Linked DNA regions of Homo sapiens: region 2 is linked to region 1. The links come from fine-mapping of genetic effects on gene expression. A gene starts in region 1. The other region holds a variant in brackets. All regions are shown on one strand. Distances are from middle to middle. Region 1 holds the start of LINC02275 (long intergenic non-protein coding RNA 2275). Region 2 has its middle 100 kb from the start of LINC02382.

The links.
Region 2: its variant is fine-mapped to the expression of LINC02275 in CD8 T cells (CEDAR, PIP 0.95).

The regions. Positions count from the first base shown.
Region 1 is chr4:169,974,803-169,977,724 of GRCh38, forward strand. It overlaps LINC02275 (long intergenic non-protein coding RNA 2275), which reads right to left and starts at 1,100. Exons shown (of 5, transcript NR_037878.1): 1 at 1,014-1,100. RefSeq lists an enhancer at 1,104-1,847.
Region 2 is chr4:170,637,541-170,640,462 of GRCh38, forward strand. No RefSeq gene overlaps it. Among named protein-coding and RNA genes, the nearest start is that of LINC02382, 100 kb to the right of the region's middle. The variant C/T (reference allele first, on the strand shown) is at 1,379.

The sequences.
Region 1 (2,922 bases):
TTCACTTTTGTGTTATCTTTGGAGCATGTTATTTCCTTGACCATTGCAACCCCAATAAAGAAAATTGAATTACTGCAAAGTGACTGGCTTTCTGCTTCTTCTGGGTGTCCAAACCTTATCAGCTGATTAATTAAAATGTAATAAAGAAAAAAGGAAAATTATTTGATTCAGCTGATCAGTCATGAGGAAGACTTCTTTAAGGAGTGATGAATTTAGAGTTATGTCAGATACAAAATAGGATATCTTAGTTTTCTGTTTCAGAGATAGTCTTAATCAGAAAGACACTTTTAATAACATAAGTGCTTCAGGATTATTCACCAAATTTATAAGCATTTTTTGGTTTTCATCTGAAGATTATTACTTGAACTTTACAAAAGAATGATTGCTTTGCTTCGTTGAGAAGCATCACTTTCTGATGAGTCAGGATGTACCAATATCAAGATGAGGGATATTTTTATAAAAACAAACATCTATTTTTTTCCTGGCCAACTTTTCTACTCATCAGAATTAGTGCACTGCTCTTCACTTGTAGGAATCCTGATGAGACACGCAATTACCTAGTTACCAATTAACATAAAGAAGATCTTGTGGAACTTCGGGAATCCCTAATCAGCTGGTCTGCAGAAAAACAACACAGCCCACAGGCGCGCATGGGGGAATTATGAGAAATATTTGGAATCACTGTCCACATTTTCTTATCCTTACACATTTTTCCAGCTATTTGTCTTAAATTTAATACACAGTATGAAGTAGAAATAGACCCAGGGTTATTAGATCAGAGAAACTGATCAGGGTAAATATGTCCTATTCATTTCTACAGACTGATTGCTTACCGGGTAAGAAGAGAATGTAACTCCATACCACAATAGGATTTGTTCCCATTCAGTTTAAGAACAGATTACAAAGTAAGCACTTTCATAATTGGTGAAATTAAATTCCTGAGTATTTAGTAAGAACAAGGAAGATTTTATTTGCACAATATTCTCATAAAAGTAAAAAACAACTGAGCCTACCTTCCATCCATATCTGGATCTAACATTTCCTTCAACAGGTGGTGATAAAGAGGCCACGAGGCACTCAGAGAAGCACAGCAAGTAAGTAGAAAGAAGTGATTTACACAGAGAGTTCAAAAGGATTTCTACCATTTAGTTAAATAATACCTAGAGTCCAGACTCTTGTGACCCTGCAAATGCTGGGAAAGAGGATTTACAGCGAGGTTGGGCGGGGCTGATGTTACATAAGAAAGCAGCCACTGAGCCACGCACACTGCCAGATGCCAGGTCAGCCAGGAGCTCAGGGATCCAAGGCCCCTCTCAGACTCCTGGTGCAGCGATTATAGAGTTCAGCCATTTAGGAGAGTGTGACAGAGTGGCGGCAGATGGCCCCTAGCAGAAATAAGTTTTGAATCTGGCTCTGAATCCCACCCTCACTACTGCCTCTAGAATGTCATTAAACTTAAGCAGAGGAGAGGAATGTCAGAACCAAGACAAAGAACTGTCTTTGGTTGAGAGGGTGTTTCTGTCCACTTGCTGTGCCATGCAGGACGTGAGACGGGATAGGGAGATTTCATGTGTGTCATAGGCTGATGTGGTTCTGCCATTGTAAGATCAGCCCTCTTGACATAGTGACTGTTTCCGAGAATAATCATAATGAATCACAAACCTGTTAGCACTTTTTTCTCCTCCTTACCTGCCTCTGGCTGCCAGCGAAGTGCTGGGTTGAAAGTGTGTGAAGTGTGTGCACGTGCACACATGAACACGTGCAGGTGTGGTGGGAAGGGGGCACATGGGTGTGTAAGCAGTCTGTCACATAGGGAAGCAGTTCAGGGCCCAATAGCTTGAGGCCTCTGAGATGAGTTTACTTGTCCTGAAGAACAAGGGTGAACAAAGGCAGTGTTCTCATGGTGGTGACAGCAGCGGGGTGCAGGTCAGTGGAGGCTCAGAAAGGGGAAAGTTAAAATGAGCTATGAGGTCCAGCAATCCGGACAATAAGAAGGAGTCAGGTGAGTGGAGATAAATTAGGCCTGATCACCTTGAAGTTTGGAAAGAGAGGTGGAATTAAGGAGATACACTGGCTTATCCTTCAAAGCCCCCTATAAAACATGTGGAAACATTAACTCACAGCATTGAAAACGGATGTTTGGACATTTTTTATGTGTGTTAGGGGGTGCATATGGTGACCAAGAATGTCTGGAGGTGACCAGAGATAACTGTGGCAGAAATATGAGAACCAGTAAAAGCCAATATTTCCTGGAGGATATCAGCAATTGCCTGTGTAAATTTAAGCACTGGCCTATCTGTGAGTATCTGGCTAACTTTAAGACAGAAGGAAAACAAAGGAATTCATTACCCCCTGGAGGCTGAGGACAAAGCCAGGGATCTGGTCCAGCCTTTCCCCATAAGAAGACCAAGACAGGGAGGCATATGAAGACCAGGAATATAGTTCTCCAGTTCCATCCATGTTATGTTAAGTGAAATAATCCAGGAACAGAACGGTAAACAGTGCATGTTCTCACTCACATGTGGAAGCTAAAAGAGCTGATCTCATAGAAGTAATAAGTGCTACAGAGGAGACTAGAGGCTGGGAAGAGGAAGAGAGGGAAGACGAAGGAGGTAAGGGAGAGATAGGGATATATTTGATAAAAGGATACTAAATTACAGCTAAATAGGAGGAATAAGTTCCAGTGTTCTATACCATTATAGGATGACTAAAGTTAACAATTATTTTTACATATTTTCAAATAGCTGGAAGGGGGATATTGAATGTTCCCAACACAAAGAAATGATAAATGGCCAGGCGCAGTGGCTCACGCCTGTAATCCCAGCACTTTGGGAGGCTGAGATGGGTGGATCACCTCAGGTCAGGAGTTTGAAACCAGCCTGGCCAACATGGTGAAACCCTGTCTCTATTAAAAATACAAAA
Region 2 (2,922 bases), 660 kb after region 1:
GGACTATCCACGTTTGTGAGTTATCTTAATATTTTTCTCAGAATTTGACTTTTTATTTAAATTTTAAAATGCAGGAGCATAAATTTACTCTTAAAATTCTCTTTTGCAGCATTTTGATAATGCTCTTATTTTCATTTGTGACGCTAGGTCTTGAATCTTCTTTCTTGATTTTTTTTCTCTTTCTGTATATTGCTCCAGTGGTTTGCCAATTTTTTAAAAAAACTCTCCAAAGGTAAGTTTCTGGCTTGATCTTGATCCTTCCTATTTTTATTTGTTTTCTATTTTATTATTATTTTTCTTATAGTTTTTTTTGGCTTGTTTTGTTGCTATTATGCTGTTTCTTTTTAATATATTCAAAGGGATCCCCAGTCTATTAACAATCTACAATATTTTTTTTAAAAGTTTACTGTAAGTTCTGGGATACATGTGCATAACATGCAGGTTTGTTATAGGTATACATGTGCCATGGTGGTTTGCTGCACCTATCAACCCATCATCTAGGTTTTAAGCCCCACATGCATTAGGTATTTGTCTTAATATTCTCCCTCCCCTTGCCCCCTGGCCCCCAACAGGCCCTGGTGTGTGATGTTCCCCTCCCTGTGTCCGTGTGTTCTCATTTACAACATTTATTTTTTATTGATATATACATCTGATTATGTGATGGCTTTATAATATGTCAACTTGGCTAAATTTCCCAGAATTCCCTGTATGTTTCCAGTTAAAGTGGGTTATAAGAGGATTGTGTACAATAACAGAGTACATGAATGAAGCAACAGCTCATTTTGTAGCTCATCTCCTGATTTTTTTGGCTATTGACCTGCTGACTTGCCCCTCTGATGTAAGGCAGAGTCTGCACCTGCAATTGCTCCACCTTCTTCTGGTTACTTCTTCAGTGTCTGTGACTCTGGAGTCAGGTGTATGTATTTAGTTCCATTGAAAAGAGGCTTGGTTTCTACAGGACACTCATACAACCAATGTCAGAGACAGCAATAACTAATCTGGGTTTCAATATTGTCTCTTGAGTTTTGGCTTTGTTTGTGAATTCTAGCTTGTTTTCATTCTTCTCGACCCTTCATCCACCTTTACATCTCAACTGTCTGCTCTGTGGATAACAAGCTCTAACATCAGGTGTCTTACAGACATCTTAAAAAGCTTCCAACATTCTGTAAGGTCAATGTTTTGTAATAAATCTCTTAATATTAACATATGACATTCAATGGTTCATCTCTCTGGTTGAATCCTGACTGGTACAGAAGTTATGCATTTTTCTCTAAGTTTTTCTGCCACCATCACTTTTATATTTTATTTTGTATGTGTTAAAACATGATTGTAACTCTTTCTTTAATTCATATGTTTTTACACAGACATTTTTGAATTT[C/T]GAAACTTATAAAATATTTATCATTTTCTAACTGATTCTCTATTTAGTTACATATTAGGAAATATGCTTATTCCAACTTTTAAGAATTATGCATTTCTTTGCAGTTACATATGATGAATCTTTGTAAGTGATTTGTGTGTTTGAAAAGAATATATAATCTACATTCATTTGGTAATTGTTTTCTAAATATGATCAATTATGCCAAGAATTTATCATGTTAAAATTTTCCACATTCTTCTTCATTTTCTATCTTCTTCTTGTTTTATCAGTTATCAGGTGTTGAGGTAGTTATTTAAAACTTTTTTTCGAGGGTGGAGCCAAGATGGCCGAATAGGAACAGCTCCGGTCTACAGCTTCCAGTGTAAGCCACGTAGAAGATGGGTGATTTCTGCATTTCCATCTGAGGTACTGGGTTCATCTCACTAGGGAGTGCCGGACAGTGGGTGCAAGACAGTGGGTGCAGCGCATCAAGCGCCAGCCGAAGCAGGGCAAGGCATTGCCTCACTCAGGAAGTGCAAGGGGTCAGGGAGTTCCCTTTCCTAGTCAAAGAAAGGGATGACAGAGGGCACCTGGAAAATCGGGTCACTCCCACCCTAATACTGCGCTTTTCCAACGGGCTTAAAAAACGACACACCAGGAGATTATATCCCGAACATGGCTCGGAGGGTCCTATGCCCACGGAGTCTTGTTGATTGCTAGCACAGCAGTCTGAGATCAAACTGCAAGGTGGCAGCAAGCCTGGGGGAGGGGCGCCTGCCATTGCCCAGGCCTGATTAGGTAAACAAAGCAGCCTGGTAGCTCAAACTGGGTGGAGCCCACCACAGCTCAAGGAGGCCTGCCTGCCTCTGTAGGCTCAACCTCTGGGGGCAGGGCACAGACAAAAAAAAAGACAGCAGTAACCTCTGCAGACTTAAATGTCCCAGTCTAACAGCTTTGAAGAGAGTAGTGGTTCTCCCAGCACACAGCTGGAGTTCTGAGAATGGGCAGACAGCCTCCTCAAGTGGCTCCCTGACCCCCAAGCAGCCTAACTGGGAGGCACCCCCCAGTATGGGCAGACTGACACCTCACATGGCTGGGTACTCCTCTGAGACAAAACTTCCAGAGGAATGATCAGGCAGCAGCATTTGCAGATCACCAATATCCACTGTTCTACAGCCACGGCTGTTCTGCAGCCACCGCTGCTCTGCAGCCACCACTGCTGATACCCAGGCAAACAGGATCTGGAGTGCACCTCTAGCAAACTCCAACAGACCTGCAGCTGAGGGTCCTGTCTGTTAGAAGGAAAACTAACAAACAGAAAGGACATCCACACCAAAAATCCATCTGTACGCCACCATCATCAAAGACAAAAGTAGATAAAACCACAAAGATGGGGAAAAAACAGAGCAGAAAAACTGGAAACTCTAAAAAGTAGAGCACCGCTCTTCCTCCAAAGGAACGCATCTACTCACCAGCAACGGAACAAAGCTGGATGGAGAATGACTTTAACGAGTTGAGAGAAGAAGGCTTCAGATGATCAAACTACTCCGAGCTACAGGAGGAAA